Homo sapiens: one gene and its partner. Changing the gene in region 1 together with any one later gene gives a genetic interaction. Each region holds a gene or a part of one and is shown on either strand. Other genes may lie near its edges. The genes, in order: RAX and PAX6.

Region 1 (13,266 bases):
TCAACCTTGGGTGTTAGGGACTGGCACCGAACCGGAGATCTGCTTGGTGAACTGAGAGGAGTCCTTAGGAGAGCGGGGACGCCAGGGGCCGGGGGACACTTCGCTCTCGCCCTAGGGAAGGTGGTCTTGACGCTTTCTATTGAAGTCAAACTTGAAAATATCAGCTGCCGCTGGACTATGGGGCTAGCGGGGGAACTGGGAGCGCGCTAGCATCTGAGCCTTAGCCCCATCCACTCCGGACCCCAAGCGCGCACGCCGGCTCCAGGGAAGGGCGCCTCTGGTCTAGGCCGCCGAAGCGTTCGGAATGGGGACGATTCTCTGCTGCAGCGAAGTGTCCCTAGAATTTTCACAAGGAAACCCTGAGCTTCTTCTCAGTCCTCCTCTTTCCCTGACCCACCCTGTCCGTCAACGCACCCTCCTCCCGTACCCCAATATTCACTCCTCTCCCCAAGTCCTGAGCGTGCTTAAACAGAGTCGAAACAAAACAAGCATGTCTTTAATTCTCCTCTCAAATAGTTTGAAACTACTTATACAAAAGTTTCTCAAACTCTATTTTTCCGCCTCCCCTGCTTCCCTGTTATGGTTATCTGGGGGTCTCCAAGCCTCCTGGGAATGGCCAAGTTTAGGAGCTTCAGCCTGTTTGGGCCTGGAGGCTCCAGCGCCTGCGGTGATGGGAGCGGCGTGGCCAGCGGGGCCCGGCAGCCTGTTGCCCTCCAGCTGCAGGGCTGAGGTCCGCGAAGTGCGTTGAGGCGGCCAGAGGGCCTCTCCTCAGGCCTGAAAGTCGCCCTTCTCCCCGTGCATCGGGAGCAGGCGCGTGGCCCTGAACTATGCTTGGCGGGTGGCTGCAGGCGACAGGGAAAGAGGGGCCGAGCTGGGGAGGGGGGTTGTCCCTGGGAGAGAGGATGCGGGTACGGTGCGGTCGGCCCGGGGTCGGATCCCAAGACGTTCCCCAGTGCCCCTAGAGGGCCTGCCACGGCTTCCCGATGGCCTGGATGTGCTCCTTGGCTTTCAGACGCAGCGCCGCGATGCTGCTGTTGCGCGGGTCCGCCTCGTCCAGCGGGAACTTGTCCCCGAAGCCGGGCCCGCACGGGTAGGAGGGCGGCGGCGGCGCGAGAGGTTGCAGGCCGGGGCCCAACGGCGGGGAGTTCAGGAAGGGCGGAGGCGGCGGCGGTGGCGTGTAGCTGGCAGGCAGGCTCTGCGCCGGCGGCCCGAAGCCCGGCAGGCTCTGCAGCGCCGTGGCGCCCCCGCCCGGCAGCGGCGGCCCGAGCCAGGACTCCAGCGGCAGCGCGCCCCCAGCCGGCCCGCCACCGCTGCCCGGGCCCGCCCCGAGGGGCGACAGCGTCGCGGAGGGCGGGGAGCGGCTGAAGGAGAGGAGGGGCGAGTCCTGCAGCTTCATGGAGGACACTTCCAGCTTCTCCTGCCGCCGCCACTTAGCCCGTCGGTTCTGGAACCACACCTGCAGGAGAGAGCACAGGGGCCGTCGGGCAGCAGCGGAGGCTGCGGCCGCGTCCCCAACCCTGAGCCGGTTCAGCTCGGCGGGCTCCACTCCGTCCCCCTCAAATAAAACTAGGGGCGCAACTGTTATGCATGTGCCGAGAGAGGCCCGGATCTTCCTTCCTTCCACCCACTCCTACTCCTCCCACCCCGCGTTCTCTTTTCTTTTCCATCCCCTTTCTCTCTCTCTCTCTCTCTCTTTTTTTTTTTTTTTTGGCCTCTTCTCTCCATTATCGCCTCTTCTGAGTCTCTTTGTCCCATCCTAGTCCTCCGTGGCGTCCCACCCTTTTCTCTGTTTATCCATAGCTGTGGTTGTATCTGTTTCCAACTCCTAGTGCGTAGCAGAAGCTCAGAAAAAAAAAGTGAATTTAACTCCGCAATCGAATCGTAGAACTTTGAAACGAGATCTCACCAATTTTCTGTGACCTTCTGGTTGGCAGCCCCTCCTAACAGTTTAGACTTGCTTGTTCTCTGTATGGTACAGATCTAAGTTGCTGTATTTTGGTCTCAGACTTTCTCTGCTTTACCTACCCTTTGTCTCTAAATACAGGTATAAATAAATATTGTTAAGTAGAGTAATTGGCAAGAATGGGCGTTAAAATTCAGCTCTTTTCACGGATTACTGGTTATGATAACTAGATAGGAGCAAGTGGGGTTTATTTTGCCCCAACCATATTTGAATTGCTGCTTTAATATTTTTATTTTTATTTAATTAATGTCTGCTTACTATTTCTGCTGTTTGTTATTACTTTCAAGGAGTACAATCATTCCAGTCTATTATATCTACTTTTACATTACAAAGTTAATTTTGACATTACCCTAAGACCTTAGCTCAATGACAAGGTTTTTTGCTTCTTCTTCTTTATCTGTACGAAGTCCTTGCCAAGAGTAACGTCGGGTTCTTCCAATGAAACTTCATTACTGATTTGATAAAAGTGCTGGAATATGTGTAATTACATTTTTACTACCAGTTCCACCTTCACAGGCAAGACAGAGAATCCGTTTAGTAGAGAACACAAAAGAATTTCAGCCAAACTGGTGGCTTTAGTGCTATATTTATGAAGGGAAATGGGGAGATTGTTGCAACCTCAGAAGGGAGAAAGTAGTTTTCAGTCAATAAGGGCAGGGGACCCCCGAGGAGAGCTGAAAGAACAGCAATCCAGCACCCAAGCACCGCAGGGCAAGTGTGTGAGAGGCTGCAATTAGGGAGAAAAAGAGAAACAACAAAAGTGTAAGTACCCTGTACCATCCTAGAAAAGATTCATCTGCATATCTAAGGCCTCAAGTCTCCCTTAAATATTAGATACTTGCCAACAGTAGAGAAAAGAAACACTGATTTGGGTGAGGGCTCCTGTCCCACCACCTTCTCGGCTTCCCTGTCTGTCCCACTCAATTCCCTACCACATCAGCTGTAGCCTTCAGATCTAGTGTCCCAGGTTATAGACTGAAGGATTGAGGTCGGTTATTGCAATGCTCTACTGCTGCCCTCGGTGTGGGAGATCCTGCCTAGTATCTCTACCATCTGATTACATCATAGTCATGTGTTAAGAATGGCCATATGCTGGGTGCTGTGCTGGCCCTGTGGTCACAAAGAAGTCACAGACACTGTTCTCAAGAATCTCACAACTTAGAGGAGAAGCCAAAACTCCTGAACAAGTAATGAGGGAGGATGCAGGTGGGCTCAAGTGCCCAGGGAGCTGAGTCTGCTTTGCTTGGATTCTGTAGGGTACTGGAAGGCTTTGCCTCTACTCTTTCTCTTGTATTCATTCCCTCTCCCATCCTTCTTTTTTTGAAAGCAGGTGATAAAATTTCCACCCCTTCAGTGAAATCACTGCAGCTTTACTGCCCCAAATTAGGAGACATTGAACTGTCCTTGCTGGTTAATCCCAAGTCACATTAGGGAATTATATTTTTTAAGCCATGACTTTTACTCATTACTTTCAACTCTTAAACTAAGCAGAAAAGAAAAAGCAGCAGCTTGTCCTCTTTTACTTTTAAGACATGGATAAAAGCTCCGAACACTTGAGTGTTCTCATTTCCTGGAAATCTAATTTATTAGACACACACAAAAATCCCATCTTAGTTCCACTGCCTTTCAGATGCAGTGAAATTTGTTCCCAATGTCTCTCTTTCAGCCCTCTGTAAACTCTCCCAATTTGGAAATCCTCCCAGATTTTTCACAGATGACTAGCAAATATTTAAGGCTTTCAAATATTTTAATGATCAGGGATTAAAGATAATTCAGCTTTAATTAAAGCGAAAACCCCTTTACAATAAAAAGAAAAGGCCTTTGCAGCGAGAAGTTTGGTTGGATGTGCACCAGAAAAGGAAAAGTCAGTTTCTTAAATAAATCCACCCGAAGTTTCAACTGCGAGGTGCCAGGCCCTTCGCAAGGAAACAGGGTTTTCGTTTCCAACTCGGTATTCGCAGCTAGTGACGAGGGTGGCATTTGGGGCCCCAATCCTGTCACCCTCGATCACTACCTGCATTCCATTTCCACTCAGCAACCCCCAACCCCTTCCTGGCTATGTCTAATGAGCTGTCGGCCTCTTCATCTTGCAAGTCATTCCCATCTTCTATTTTGAGTTTAGAAGAGGGAAACCCCCAAAGGGGAGCTCGTACTACAAACTGGAACAGACTGCTTGAAGGGCGATGCACAGGGAACATCGAAGATCTGTGCCTCTCCCTTGAGACTCTGGGCATGCCAAGTCGAGGAAGGACAGTAATAAATGCATGGACACCCGTGAATTCCGAGAAGCATTGGCTGCAATTTGGGCCTCGGGCCCTCCCAGATCCCAGTTCCTCAACCTGGGCGCTTTACCTGGACCCGGACCTCTGGTAGGTTGACCTTGCCGGCCAGCTCCTCGCGGCTGTACACGTCCGGGTAGTGGGACTTCTCGAACGCGCGCTCCAGCTCATGCAGCTGGTACGTGGTGAAAGTCGTGCGGTTCCGCCGATGCTTTTTCTTGGGCTGTTCCTCCTCTGACAGTTTCGCTTCGCCGGTGGCTGGCCCGACGGGCAGCCCTGGGCTCGGCCGTGCCTCCCCGGGCTCCTTGGGGCAGTAGGGTCGAGGGGCTGGGGCGACGAGGCCCGGGAGGGTCAGATGCACTCCCCAAAACACCCTTGGGCCGACCCCGCCTCGCTGTGGGCACTGGCCAGCCCGCCTGCGGGCTCCGAGATGGCCCGGGGAGGTCCGTGGTGAGGGCGGCGATGGGTCCTAAGCTTTCTCTGAATGCAAATTGGAAGCTCCCGCCATAGACGGTCCCCAACCCCGCGCCCAGTTGCCTTAATAAAAGTTAAGGAAGGGGCGCTCTCGTCTGGCCAACTCCTAAGCTCGGGCGCCCGAACGGCCTCGCACAGCCAGGGGTGCGCACTCACCTTCGTACTCGGGGGCGGGCGCCGGGGCTGGCGGCGGGGAGGGCTCGGAGCCTTCCTCGGGCGCCTTGGGGCAGGCGGGCCGCGCGCCCAGCCTCCTATCCCGCTCCTTCGCGCCCCGGGCGCCCCGCTCCGCCGGGAAGGTGCCGAGGATCCCGTCGTCCTTGGTAAACCCCAGGATGGCCTCGATGCTGTGAAGTCGCGAGGTGCTCCCGCCCGGGCTGCGGAGCAGGTGGCCGGCAAGCGAGAAGCTCCCGTCGGCCATGGCTGGCGCGCAGCCCGGCAGGTGCATGGGGAGCGCCGGGAGGCGGGAGGGCGCTTTGGAGACGGAGAGGAGAGGCTCGAAGCCGGGTCTTCCCGAGTGCGGCGGTGCAACCCGACGGGTCCCGACCCTAGGTCAAGCTCCGCGGGCGAAGCCCGCCCGGGCTGCGCACGCTGGGGGTGGCCGAGCGCTCAGCCCGCTGCCGCCTTAGTCCCAGAAGTCGGAAGTTCGGGCTCGGGGTAGCTGGGGCTCTCGGCGCTAAAGGCGGGGAGCCAACTGGCCCTCGGCTCCTCCCCTCTCGCCCTGGACCCAGCCCCTTCTCTCGGCCCCTCCCTCCACAGAGGGGCGTGTCCTCACCCGGCCCAGCCACAGGGTCCTCTAGTGGCCACCCCTGGGCCGGCACTAGGAATATTCCCCTTCCACCTCTTGATCCGTTTTAAGCTTTACAAACACACTCCGGGGATCCGCGGCGGGATGCCTGATGGGCTCGGGAACCTGGTCGCGGCGCACCCCTAGTCCTGCCTCAGTGGGGCCGACGCCCTTGGGCTCATCTCTCCCCTTGCGTTTGTCTCCCTCTACTTCGGGCTTACCCTCTCACTTCAGACTACCCCCTGGGGGTCACCTCCCTCCTTGGACGCACCCCTCCCCAGCTTCAGACTCGCCCCTCTAGCCCCCTCTGGCTCACCTCCGCGGGGCCGCCACCCTGGCCTGTGCCCCCTGGAAGCGCCGAGACCCAGCCGAAGGCTTCCCAGCCCCGCACTCGTCGCAGTTTGAATTTCCCCTCGCTGGCTCCCTTTTCGGGACCCACTCCTTTCTTGGCTGGGTTGTACGAAGTCCCGGACCTCGCGTTTAGTTTGTCCGTCTATATCTGTTGTAACTCCTCCCAGTCCCCTCGGACTTGAGCGCCGGCAGCCTCCCTCCTTCCCCGCAGCGCCCACCCCAGGGCCATTTATGTCCGCAAGTCCGGTGACCTCTAGCGCCCGATCGCCCAGCAGGAGACTGGGAGCCCCGAGTCGGATGTGCTGCCGGGCTCAGGTCCCGCAGGAGACCCACCTGGAGTTCCTCGCTCCCGCCCCTTGTCCTGCGGGGAGGGCGGGCTCCTTTACTGATGAGCAGCGGTGTCGCACTCCCGCCTCCCTCCAACACTCCGGGCCAAGGAGATGGCCCAGAGCTGGCTGGGGAAGGACCTTCTCCCGGGGAAGAGGCCTCTCGCCTCCCCGAGGGTTCAGGAGTAATTGGCTTGCAGTTCTTTCTCCTTTGGACCCCCTCGAGGCTTCCGTGGCCCACAGTGACTGATCGGCCACTTGGAAAGATGATTGGATAGGGTGAGTGTGTTTCACCTCCAGCAGCGCGGATGGACAATGGCGCTGTGAACGTCTCACCCCTCAAATCTGAGGCGAGACCCGAGGCGAGCGCTTGGCCTTCCCTGAACTGGTGGCCTGAACCGTGAATTAAAATGCTTTCCTATAAAAGCTCAAGGACCTAGAGGACAATATCCCTAAAATCTCCTTTTCAGTAGGCGCTCTGATCTCCACAGCAGGGGTGTCTTCTTTATCCCGCTTGCGTTCAGACAAGCGTTTGCTGCGTCCCTTTAGAGGGCAAGGCAACCGTCGAGGGCCACGTCGTGGGCATCAAACAAATTGGGAAAGGCCAGGGCCGTTGGCCTGGTGGAGTTTAACGTCCAGTCTGGAAGACAAGACAAAGGAAGAGGGAAAACACACATCCTCAGATCCCCAACCTTTAAATTGGTGTTAGAAGGATGTTTGCGGAGGACAAGTCAATTTCTTAAGGATCATTCAATGGTTAATTCCCCATGATGGGCATATCTACTTTTAATAAAACTATATAATGGCAAACTAAAATAAGGGCAAGCATGTGACTGCAGGAGATAGAAATTGAACTAATTCAAGTCAGAAATTATCTTTTAAGAAAAAAGCTAAAATTAATGAAAGTTAATAGCACTTTACAGTGTTCACATATTACTTTATTTACTTATTATTTATTTGTCTGTTTATTTTAGAGACAGGGTCCCTCTCTGTTGCCCAGGCTGGAGTGCAGTGGCATGATGGTGGCTCACTGCAGCCTGGAACTCCTGGGCTCAAGCAATTCTCTCGACATGTCACTTTGTAGGTTTCAGAATCTTCTCACATTCTTCATGTCATCTGATCTTCACAACCTTGTGAGGTGAGCAGGACAGACATATTGGTCCCCATTTTACAGAAGAGGAAACTGAGGCTCAAAGTGATACAGCTATTAAGTGGAAGGGTCAGGACTAGAACTCAGGCCACTGACTCCTTGTCCAGTGTTTTCTGCCTGCAGCTCATTTGTAATTATTATTGTAGTGTGTGATCTTTTTGAAAAGAATCAAAGCCCATCTTAGCCTGCAGTCTGTCTTTAATCCTTCCCTGAGACTGGATTCTGCATCTAAGAGGCGGAGGTAGAAGCAGTTTAGCTCCCAGAAGAAATAAAGTCAGAGCCTATAGAGAGTGGGCTTTGGGTACCGGCATCCAGGGCAAATTAACAAACCCTCTGGAAAGTCCCCTGACAGACCAGGTTTTGCCTCCTCCTCCGCCCCTCCTCCACCTTTCCAGGGCCCACAAATGGCCTGGTGGCACCCGAAAAGGTCTGACTGCCAGTGACATAGACCAGGTGGCTGACGTGCTGAGGTGGTGGTGATCAGAGGGCAGCTGTGGGGATAATTAATTGGTATTTGTTGTTCCCCCTCTGACCGAGAATGCTTTTTATGCAAACTTCCCCAATATTAAATTGATCTCGATAATCACCGCTAAACAAAGATTGGCAGCGTTTCCTTAAGCTCCTGCCCACACGCTGCTAAGGGGTTTATGGCCTTGTTTTCCAAAGTTAATTCCTCTGGAACTGCCCAGCTCCTCCTAATAAGTCCAGGTGAGGTTAGCTTTTATTTACTGTTTGTTTCAGAGTCTGGGGAAAAAAGCAGAAAAGACTTCAACAGCCACTGGCGAGGGCAGGGGTGGTGGTGATGGGGGTGGGGGAGACAGGGCAGAGGAGGACAAGGGGGAGTTGGGGCTTCCTTTGTGCAGGACATAAAGAGCTAGTCAGTACCATTGTGGGCACGGTGGAGGGTACTCCAAGCAATCAGCCGGGGGTCATTGTTAGGGGCTAATCTACGTGTGTATTTCCCAAGAACTCGATTAGGGAAGATGAATGGACTGGGCCATGTCCCTAATTCTTCTAGCATGAAGCTGCATTTTTCCAGCAGTTAGGCTAGCTCATAATCAGCCCTGCTTCAGCAACAGTAAGGAGCCTGGCTTCTGAACCCCACCTCTGATTAATTCATTAATTCATTAGATGGATCAAAGAAAACCCCTCCTTCCATCCCCCACCTGCGGCCAACCTTAGACACAGCTAAAGCCCCATTAAACTTCGGATGGTTGGGAGACACACATTTCCAAACGTGAGGAAGTTGTAGTATAAAGCGACTCCTTGATCGTGGCTGTATGGAGAAGGTCCAATTTCTGGAAGTATTCTGGATGAACAGTCTCACCTACAACACGGGGGAGACATGCATATCCCTGTGCACTGGACGGAGAAGGAGAGGGAGAGCGGTGAATTAAGGACATTCAGCCACAGTCTCTAGTCATTTCACCTCTCAGCGATGTTTTACATTAGGGTGAAAATGTCTGTGGAAAGGCCTATGATATATCAATTCGTAAAGTGTATCAAATAAACTTGATTGTCTGCATGTAGATTTTCCCCATAGCAGATGTATTTTAATCCTGGAATAACTCCCCCTGTGTCACGCCATATTCGAGGACCTCCTCCTCCCACTAGCTGATACACGTGCAAGAAAGGCAACTTACTTTTAGTTTTAGCCAGAGCAAAACACAACTCATATAATCACTAAACACGCACACACACCATACACACACACTGAAGTTCAACAAATTCAGTTGTCAAGAGTTAAGAATACATACAAGAGCTACTATTTATTGAATGCTAAGTACATGTCAGTGGGTATATGCCATAAGCTTTTGAGTATTATTTTACATGAATTGCCCAATTTAGTTCTTACGATAATCCTATGATGTAGATGCTGCTATTATTATTATTATTAGAGACAGAGTCTGGCTCTGTTGCCCAGGCTGGAGTGCAGTAACATGATCACAGCTCACTGCAGCCTCAACCTCTTGGGCTCAAGTATCCTCCCACCTCAGCTTCCTGCAAAGCTGGGACTACAGGTGCAGGCCATCACATCCAGCTAATTTTTGTATTTTTTTGTAGAGATGGGTTTTCGCCATGTTGCCCAGGCTGGTCTTTAACTCCTGGGCTCAAGCAATGTTCCTGCCTTAACCTCCAAAAATGCTGGGATTACAGGCTTGAGCCACCGCACCTGGCCAGTAGACACTATTATTATCCCTACTTTACAGATGAGGAAACTGAAATACAGAGAGGTTCTGTAGCATGTCCAAGGTCACACAGCTGGTTTCAAGTAGAGCCAGGATCTGAACCTAGGTGTTTTACTCAGGAATGCTTCCTTCTGCCCACCATGTGTGCTACCCCCAACACGGTATGTGTATTAACATGCACCATTAATTCTCCAGTGGCCATAAGAGAACCAGCAGATAAATTAAAGCAAGAAAATTTGGGAGTCAAAGGTAACAAGAATAATATAGTTCAGAGTGATGTGGGGATGAGAAAGGTATGGTGGATGGCCTATAATTTATTAAGTCATTTAAGATGGTTACAGGTTTGCTAAAAAAAAATAATAATAAGTATGCCATTCAACTTTCCAAGGCTATCTCATGAAGCTTAGGGAGTTTTCTCTGTTCTGAGTTTCAAATCACTCTCAGTGGTTTGTGAACAATATATATTTAAGCATCTAAAAGATATTTTTCAGCATTGGCCTTTGATGCTGTGAATTCTCCCCTATATTGTATTATATATTGCATATCATGGGCGAGTTGCTGGCAATGGTTGCAAAAATATCACTAGCTAAGCTCTTTTAAATACTGACATTGCATCCAGAGATAAAATACACTATGCTTGTTCATCTCTCACTACCAGATCTCCCTCATTTATGAAACATTAGCTACTTGAAGCAACCCACAAGGTATATCAGAAAAATGTTCTTAGAGGTGCCTACCAGAACCCCATTTTTACATGCGGGCAACTAACAATGAATATCCTTGGCCACTTTCATAAATATATGACCTTGACACATATGATAAAGACATTTCCAGTATAGTAGTTTACCTCTTACTATGACAATCTGGATGTTCTCTAGTATTTTCAGACTAGATTGAAGCAAATGTTGATATAAGGATAGTGTAGTGAATAATAACCCCATCAGATAATCGTGGCTGAAAGACCATAAACCAACAAAGAGATGGGCCTCATGTAGACATTATGGGTTTAATTGAGAGCCCTCGCAGATGGGCATATGGAAGCAAGCATTTCATCTCGTCACAAGACGAAATGAAGGGCAGTTGAGAGCTGTTGTTTCCCAGCAGTAATACCCTGTTTGAAAGCCTTCCTTTCACTTAAAAATAGGGACCACAGCTCTCTGCAGACCATCCAGCAATTAGCAAGAAGTCTCCTCCTTGGGAATTTCCATTGTTTCCCAATTATGATATTTTTGGAAACAGCATCACTTAAAACTGCCCTCCCACTTAGTGTCCTGTTATTTCAGGGGATCGTATATTGAAGATTTAGAAAACGAACTTTGATGATTATCTGTTCTGTTCTCTTATTTCTAGCCCCCATTTTAACATTTTAGATGTGAAAAATGTGTGGGCCCAGAGAAATTAAGCAGTTAGCCCAAGGTGAGACAGAATGTTTGTACTAGGGCTTGGACTGGAGGCCGGGTCCCAGACTCCCAGGGTGTCCACTGGGCACTCTGGCATTAGCACCGCCATGCTGAGCTCTCAGGCTGTTACACTCAGATGCCCCACGCTTATAGTTAGAGAAAGTCAGTGCATGAATTGTGGAGGAATATATTTGTTGTACAAACACAATGAAGTTACTCTTCACACAACTCCCCCGTCACTTACCAACCCAATTATCTTGGTTCTGAGCTTGCTTTTACAACTGATGCAAGTTCAAGTAGCCTCTCGGTAAGAGGAAAAATTCCCTTGGCAATAGATTTGCAGGGATTTTTGGCAAACAGCTAATATTGCTACGCATTGGTGTGCTGGAATCAGCCCCTACTGGCTTGTAAGAACTTATGGTTAGCATCTTCCCAGTTCTGAGTTCAGTGATTCATCTTAGTAGCTTGAAATCAGCCACAGTGGTAGTAATTTCACCACAGCAATTGACAAACACTAAAAATCAGACAGTCCCCCTCTCAACTTAAAAACTAAATGATATTTAAACATTACTAGCATATTACTGCTCCTACCTCATTAAAAATGAGGAAATCAGGAAGTGTTTATTATTGTTATTATTTATTATTAAAACTAAAACAAAACCATGATTGACGGGGTGAGAGACGTCTACCTTTTTACTCAGAAATGAAAATTTACATCATTATCTCAGAATATATAAACAAAAGAGGGAACTTGGATTTCTGCCAAATAAATGGACTTTTTTGAGTTGTTAGGAGCAAAGCTATATTAAGATAATTCCTCTTTACTTGTTTTCTAATTAAACTAATTGAATTCAGAGTGTCTAGGGGGAAGCACTAAAGACATTTATCTTGAGGGGATGATGGTCTTGAAGCCTATCAATCCTCTTAGAGTGCTAAGAAGGCAAATCCAAGGATGCCCATTTTGCAGCAGCCTTGACCCAACCCCCACCAGGGGTTTGGCTGGCTCTAGTCTTTTTCACAGCAAGGCAGTGTTCTACTGAAAATCATTTGGCTTCCAGTTCTCTACAACCTCTGGTTTTCTTTCTAGCTCACTGGTTGCTCCTCGGCAGTATCCTCCCTGGATTCCTCCTCTTGTCCTTGACCTCTGAAAGCTGGAATGCCCAGCCCAGCCCTAGGTCCTGCTCCCTATTTAGACTCACTTTCTTGATGCTCTCCTTGACTCTACTCTGGAACTCTTTCTGACTCCTGTAGTTTATTGACTGCCTGTTAGGCATCTCCATTTGCTTGCGTATTGAGTACATGTTAGAAACAGAGTTTCTGAATAGGACTTCCCTCCTGCACCTGTTCTACCACCATCTTCCTCATATCTGTAAATGGCTGTTTCACTCACGTGTCTCAAATTCTAAGCCATTTCTCTTTCTATCACCCAATTTGTCAGGCAATCCTGTTGGCTGTAGCTTCAACATATAAACAGATTCTGATGGCTTTTCTCCATCTCCAATCTGGTGCAAACCACCATTCATCTCTATAGGGCTCAAGTGGTCCTCCTGCCTCAGCCTCCCGATTAGCTGGGACTACAGACATGTGCCACCACGTCTGGCTAATTTTTTTGTATTTTTGGCAGAGACGGTGTTTCACCTTTTTGGCCAGGCTGGTTTCCAACTCCTGACCTCAGGTGATCTGCCTGCCTCGGCCTCCCAAAGTGCTAGGATTACAGGTGTGAGCCACCACACCCAGCCTCCTTTGTATTCAGATAAATAATTATAGCACAACTCTGGTTCAGATCTATAAATATGTGTTGGGTTACTCTCCTTCTCTTCTAATTCAAAGTCAACATACACATTCTCATTCCCCCAAATGGAAGCTGCCTGCTTCTTAAAATAGGAGTTTAACATATTCCATTTTATGTTTTAATTTGGAGAGTGAAAAAAAAAAAAACCCAGAATGCAGCTAACTCCTGACAAAGCACGAGCTACTCACAAGCAGAAACAATTCAAAGGCCAGGACTGTGTCTCCTACTTCCTTTTTAAAAAATGTGTGGTTAAATACACACAACTAAAAATGTGCCATTTCAATCATTTTTGAGTATATGGTTCTGTGGCATTAAATACCTTCATATTGTTGTGCAATCATCACCTCCATCCATCTCCAGAACGTTTTAATCTTCCTGAACTAAAATTTTGTATCCATTAATCAAAACTCCTCACCACTCCCGGTCCCCAGCCCCCAGCAACCATCTTTCTGTCTCTAGGAATTTGACTACTGTAAGTATCTCATGTGAGTCAAATCATAGAGTATTTGTTCTTTTGTGACTGGCTTCTTTCATTTAGCATAATGTCTTCAGGTTTAT
Region 2 (7,014 bases), on another chromosome or scaffold:
GTGGCCTGAAATAGCCAAATCATCATTTTTCCTTATAAGTCAGACATTTAGTCTTTGAATTACTGGTAGATGAAAAGAAGAAACACACACACACACACCACACACACACACACACACACACACACACACACACACACACACACACACACACACACACTGAAAAGATGCCCAGAGAAATAAAAAGACAGAAAAAAGGAAATCTTTTCATTCTTCTATGCAAAGGGCCCTGGCTAAATTTAGCTCTTTGTACTGAAGATGTGGCATTTACTTTGATTTACTGCTTCTCTACTTTGAAAAACTCTATCACCTTTCTCCAGGGCCTCAATTTGCTCTTGGGTAAAGGATGTTCTATTTCTTTGCAGCTTCCGCTTCAGCTGAAGTCGCATTTGAGCCTCATCTGAATCTTCTCCGTTGGAACTGATGGAGTTGGTATTCTCTCCCCCTCCTTCCTGTTGCTGGCAGCCATCTGGAACAAAAAGAATAGGATGGTAAGAGAAATTTGGATTAACTTGGAGCCTCCAAAAGGGGCCTGGTGTAGTCTTAAACTCCAAGAGCATTATATCCCGACAGCCTCACCAAAACATTCCCAAGGTAACTGTCAGCCTTCTTTTAAAAAAATACATTTGCGATGTTAGTTACCTGACCACCATTTTCTTTGTTTTTATCAAGATGAGACTTTATAATACACACACTAAGTGGCATTTCTTGAATGAAAAAATAAGCACTGAAGTTTCCAATTAAAATGATCTTTTATAAGTAACCCCAACTCCCCAAATGCCTCACTCCACTCCCTACAGAATCTCTTTACCTATGGCTGTGTTGGGAAAATAGAAGAGTGATGTTCAAGATTTCAGTTGATCTATAATCAGTAATTCCTATCTAATCAATTAGATGTTGATAGGTTTGTAGAAAATGCTATTAAGAAACCAAACCAAGCTTGTAATCTTTTTTAAAAAATATTTATCTAGTTTTTATTTGAATTCTGCACAGTCAATTTCATTTAAAGGTTGTGAATTTAGAAGTGCTCGCATTGTTCTGCAGTTTTATTCAACTATTGTATGAGTGCGCTTCGCCTTGACACCTATTACGAGCACAGCTGTAATTATATCATCACCAAGAACAGGCTATAATTGCTGAAAATGGAATTTTATATTTAGATAAAAGGACTGTCCATTCTTTGTAATGTGTTGCACCAGAGAAAAGTAAGATTTCTTTTAAATTTTTAACGTGTAATTTTAAAAAAGAAATAGTAGAGAGTTCACTAACTAGCTAAATATTCTATGCTGCAGCTGAATCTTTGGCATATCATTTAAGTGGTACATTTTTAATTAGGGCATTTCCACCACTTTGAATGTAACTTCTATCATTATACAGGGGGAAAGTTTTATGGTTTTCCCTTGCTGCCTGGAGGGCAAGATGTGCACTTGGGCTAGCTGGCTCCCGGCTTGCACCTTGCCTGTAAGGCCACAGTGAAGGGAAGCAGGATTGCCTAAACTCTGACTGGGCCTCCAGGGCCACTACAGGCTGGGTCCTGGGTCTGGGGTCCTGAAATGACCCCCAAGGGATACCAGCATGGGCTACCCACCTCCCTATCCTCAAAACTTGGCCAGAGGCGGGGTGGAGGGGCCCCTAGGAGCGCCTTGGTGGGAATCGACTTGGCCAGGAATATTATTTATAACCAGGAGACAATAGGCTGCGCCTTCAAAGAGTTCAGGGAATTGTGACAGGATCTAGTGGGATCTTTTCAGGAACTTTGAAATGTTTTAAAACCCCAACTTTCTCCCCCATTTAAACAGGCGGATTCATCGGCACTGGCCACCATATGGGCCCTTGGAGATCTATTGAGATGACCACCAACACTTGAATAGCGAGGGGCTGCTTTTCAGCGCTGCACAATGCCCCGCGAGTAAGGGAAACTATTAAACTCCTGGGGCAGGAGCGTTGGCAAACTTTCGTGGGCAGAATTTTGAGGCTACAATGAGCGCGGACAACAAAAGGATTCTCTTGAGGCGTGCAGCGGGCCACATTGTGTTACAAGAAGCCCAGTCAACAGACTTTTCAGTGAAGTGTGTTAACCCCTCTGCTCTGCTATCATTAATCACTGTCCGAAGAGCGGGCGCCTCCGTGCTATTTAGGGCGCTTGGCTGGGGGGATGGAGGGTGGATGGGGGGGCCAGGGCCCAGCATGGGGGGAGGCAGGGAGAGTGGACGGGGACCAGGGCTGGGTTCCTACATAGAGGAGATGGAGGGGAGGCAGGATGGAAACCAGCGGTGGGGGTGGAAGCAAGGGGGAAGGATTGGGGGGCCTGGGTTAGGGGAAAGACAGAGGGCGATGGAGGGAAAAAGAGGGCGATGGAGGGGAAAAGAAGGCTCAAAAAACATAGAGGCTAGAAAGGTATTTTTAAAAAAGGACAGAAAAGAATGCTGAGAGGAAAAAGAGACACGAGGGCCGAACAAGAGTGGGAGAGAGAGGAAAAGGAGGATGAGGGCCAGAGAATATTAGTAACTGAGCCCCATCTGGACTCTGGGTCTTTGCACTCCATCAGAAAGGTGGGGGTCGAGGAGGGCTACTTAGCTGAGGGAGACGCGCTCCGCTCACGTGTGCGGGCACAAGCGTCTGTGCTAATTTACTGCCCCAAGTTTCCGGGGACTTTTCAAAGCGTTTTTCAAGGGAAGAAATGAAGCGACCACCCCCACCCCTCGCTTTATTTTCGGGTTTGGTGAAGAAGGAAGACTGGAAATAGCTCCTTTTGGCCAACTAGAAAGGCCGGAGGGTTATTGCTTTTGGAAAACAGACAAAAATCTGTGCACATCTGGTATGGGGTGGGGGACACTGAGGAGAACACAATGCCCATCTCCCCATGGCCACTCATGCCCATGCCTTCCTAGGGGCCCCATCTCGGTCCCTTTTCTGGCACATTCGATCTCGCCAATTAAACAAAGTTGCCCGAATCTGCCTCCGAAGAACCCCGCCGATAGCATGCTCTGCTCTCATTTGCCTCTTTGACATTTTCTTAATTTTAAAACATGGAGATTCACATTCTTATCCATGTTCTGTCTCACACAAACATACACACGGGTTTACACAGGCAGCACGCGATCGCCGCCAGGCCCTGTGCTGCCTCCAGAACTGACACTTAAGAGAGAAAAGTCAGCAGGGACAGTAGAGCTCAATTTTAAATCTGGAAAAAAAAAAAAAAAAAAAAAAGATGGGAAGCGGGGATTGGAATTCCACAGCAAAAAGAAACCTGTCGCTGCAGGATCCCTTCTCTACCCCGCGGGGAGAGCGGCACGGAGACAGTTCATTACTTTAGAAGTGGCAACTGTTTGCAGCCAGGCGGTGACCTAGCGGCTGCTCTTACATAAAATGGGTACATTTCCCCCCACTTTAGTGGATTTGCCTTCCACTCTTAAAGCTTTTAACAAAATAAAACTAGAAGTTGGATCTCGACTCCCCCACCCCCACGATAAACCTAAGTGGTGGACAATTAAGATATCTTCTTCAAAAGGCGCCCCCTCGGAGCCGCGCAAAGCAGGGGCCTTCAGTGGGTGCCGTTCACCTTCCAGCCTAATCCGTGAGAAAGCGAGTGAAAGCGCCTCCCATTATCCCAGCCCCAGGACCATCTGACGATGGGAATAGGATTTGTTTCCTGGAAGGAGGTGAGAGAGAGAGAGAGAGAGAGAGACAGAGAGAGAGTTGCTGGGAAATAAAATCATTCCTTAGTTTCTTAGTGTCTTAATCAGTGAGGCGGAAAACAAGCAAGAAAAGATAGCAACCCGGTTGCGGCACCTTTTCAGCTCTGGAGCGCGGATCAAAACATTGTAGCATCTGTTGAAAGAGAGGCTGACTAAATCCTATAGAGGGCTTGGGTATTATGGGGGGTGGGGGTGGGGTGAGGGGAGGAGATAAGAAAAAGTGTCTCCGTGATCCCTAAAACCACCAAATCGCCGGAGAATTGGGGCTGGATAGAGTTGTCTCTTGTTGTTGTCAGCCCACGTCGTCGCGATTTTATTCACCGCCGCATGGCGTTGATCAGATGGAAACCATATTTGTCTCCCTCTGAGACCTAACCCCCGCCTTATGCTTTTGGAGTATGGACTCTTTAAAACCCAAGAAAGGCTTCCTGGGCTGGGAAAGGGGGCTAGGGAGGGAGGGGGACCCTCTTAGCACCAAAAAGTCTGAGGATTCCCCGGGAACGTGAAGCGAAGCTCACCACCGGTGCCCGCTACCCCCACGCCGGCAACTCTGTGCTTCGTTTGGCCCACGTGTCCTCCCCACGCAACTAGGGGCGACGGTCCTGTGCCTGAGGTGACAATCACCCCCCAAAAACCTCACTTGCGGGTGGGGGGGTGGTGATTGCCAGTTGACCCAGAATTTTCTAGCAACTAGGCGCGTTAAAGTGAAAAGCCCCTGGACTAGCTCCACCTCCGGCCCCAACCATCACAGGCGGACCCTAGCTGATTTGACTCTCACTTCCCGCCCTCAGACTGCCGGCGACGAAAATCCGCCCGAATCGGGCGCCACCTCTGGTGGAAGCTGCTGTCCTCGGCTTCTGCCCAACTCCAAGAAGCGGAAGGGGGGTGTATCCTGCGCCCCAAGCTCATGGGAGCCCACGCACCGGGGAGAGCCCGGAGTGGAGGCTCTGGGCTCAGCCCTCCCAGGCCTAGGCCACCGTGCCCTGAGTCCCTCCCCAAGACTTCTCGGACTAAGTGGGCCAGACTCTTGTCAGGGGAGGGATCACCAGGACCTCAGATTGCTGGGGGCGGAGGGGTGGACGCTCGTGAGTGCGAAGTTCGGGTGTCACTTGGGTGTGTCCAGTGTCTACAAGTGGGAATCCTACGGTTTCAAAAGTCAGGCAGGGATGGGGTTGCCTACACTCGGTGGGGTCAATCGCTAGTCTCACCAGAGGCGGGAGCGGGCCTGGGGGCCCTCTGAGCTCGCGGAGGCGGCGGGTTCGGGGCCCGTGCGGGCGGGGTCGCCCAGGGGAGCCCGGGCCCCGCGCGTCAGGAGGCCTCCGCCGGCCGAGCGGCCGCGCTGGGAAACAAGAAGCGAGCGCTTTGCTCCCTATCTTCCCAGTGTCCGTCCTATATTGTTTTCTGCTCTTAAAACTGACATGTCTAATTGGCAATTGGTGCCGAATCGTGTCCAGAGGTCTCTTGTGGAACATTTCTACAGCTGTCTCCTTCAACTAGACGCTTATTCATGTCGCCTTAATGAGAAACAAAACGTTCTCTAATGAGCAATTACAGAGCGACAGGATTGTTCCCATAACAAATTCTTGCGAGTGACAGAAGCATCCTTTGTACCAGATATTTCGCATACTGTTACCGATTTTCCCTTCCCTCGCCCGACTCCATGGAGGCGCCGGGCATCCGGAGCCGGTCCGAGAGCTCACGGATGCGCCGGCAGCCTCCTCGCAGTCCCGCGCGCCGCCCCTGGCCCCGAGCCCCTCGGCTCCGTTGTGCTCCTGGGAGTGAGACGCCACGTCCCATTATCCCGCATATTATCTCCTTGTCACGAGGACAACAAATACCGATTAATCTTCGGAGTAAACTGTTTCCTATTCTTGACCAAGCTACCTCGGGGTGTGGAGGGGAGCGGAGGGGAGCCAACTGACCCTCCCCTCCGCCCCACCCCCCCCATCCCCCGCTCTTCTTCCTCCAGCCCTTCTCACAGAACCTGGGGTGTTTCAGGTCCCATCTCTCCTCCCAGACCAGAGCGGCTCCCGGCATCCCGCCGTCCTGCTCACAGTATCTTCACCTCACCACTTCCACATAGTCGCCACCCACAGAGAGTGAGAAAGTGGGACCCAGAGGGGCGAACGGGGGAGGGGCAAGGATAGTGGGGTGGTTTTAGTTGGGAGACCACCACTTCCAATGCCCCATCCCCGACTCGCCCTGCATCTCCCTGCTCACCTTTTCATGTGCACCCTACTCATAGTCACATAATTTGTCAATTACAGCAAAAAGCAACAGGATACAATTATGTTAACCTCGCAGTCTGTCAGTGCGTTATCTTGTCACACTTCTACAAGGGGGCTCTCCCTGCATTCTAATGTCAAATTTGAATAGTGCACCACGCAGCTCGTTCTTATGCACACAGTGCTGCCCACAAACACACACACGCACCCACCAGCCACCTTCATACCGCTCCTGACATACACAACCCTCACATTCCCAGGCCAACAAAATGGTTCAACAAACACCACCTACATACAATGTGGTCGATGTGTCCCAGGCCTTCAAATGCAGTCTCACCCATGACATTCCCCAAGCATGGAAGCCCTGAGAGGAAATGGTTGGGAGAGTAGGGGACAGGCAAAGGGATGCACATATGGAGAGCTGCGTGGATGGCTGCTTGGGTTTTACCTTGCGTAGGTTGCCCTGGCACCGAAGTCCCCGGATACCAACCAGGGCGGGTGCCCCAGCTTCCGGTCTGCCCGTTCAACATCCTTAGTTTATCATACATGCCGTCTGCGCCCATCTGTTGCTTTTCGCTAGCCAGGTTGCGAAGAACTCTGTTTATTGATGACACCTGCAAATCAAACCAAAATCAAACCAAATGGTAGTGTCTCCTGAAGACACAGTCACCCATCTCAGCTCACCCACAACCTTAAAAAGCAACTCTCAACCCGTTAAAAAGCTCCCAGCCACCCCGGGACAGTGGGTGGATTTGCAGATACACCGTGGAAAAAATGATAGCTATCACTTTGGGCATGGAAATTTAGTTGGATAGAGAATTGGGCGGAGGGGGTCCTTCACCATTGCTTGGTGTCTCTGGTGACCTAACTCACACGGTTGCTTTGCTTTGTTAAAAGACTGCCCGAAAATAAAAACTATTTAGACTTGTTGTAAAGCTTTCTTTCATTATATTGTTTAATATTAGGATGGAAATGGATGTGTGACACCTGAAGGAAAGTTCTGGCAGGTGGATTAGGACGAAGTTACAATCTGGTTCTCATTTTCCTTCTTCATTCAAGTGCCTTTCCCTGGTGCCTCCGCCCTCTGTTTTGCA

What was found.
Region 2: of RAX (region 1) and PAX6, changing one enhances a phenotype caused by changing the other (phenotypic enhancement), as found in Homo sapiens cells (one study listed by BioGRID).

Annotation. Positions count from the first base shown.
Region 1 is NC_000018.10:59,268,046-59,281,311, forward strand, and holds the start of RAX (retinal homeobox protein Rx), read right to left. Parts: upstream 5,410-13,266; 5' UTR 5,162-5,409; coding exon 4,873-5,161; intron 4,570-4,872; coding exon 4,316-4,569; intron 1,457-4,315; coding exon 959-1,456; 3' UTR 1-958. UniProt on the Homo sapiens protein: Plays a critical role in eye formation by regulating the initial specification of retinal cells and/or their subsequent proliferation. Binds to the photoreceptor conserved element-I (PCE-1/Ret 1) in the photoreceptor cell-specific arrestin promoter.
Region 2 is NC_000011.10:31,794,323-31,801,336, forward strand, and holds part of PAX6 (paired box protein Pax-6), read right to left. Parts: exon of another isoform or gene 6,908-7,014; intron 6,535-6,907; coding exon 6,369-6,534; intron 6,340-6,368; exon of another isoform or gene 6,217-6,339; intron 467-6,216; coding exon 308-466; intron 1-307. UniProt on the Homo sapiens protein: Transcription factor with important functions in the development of the eye, nose, central nervous system and pancreas. Required for the differentiation of pancreatic islet alpha cells.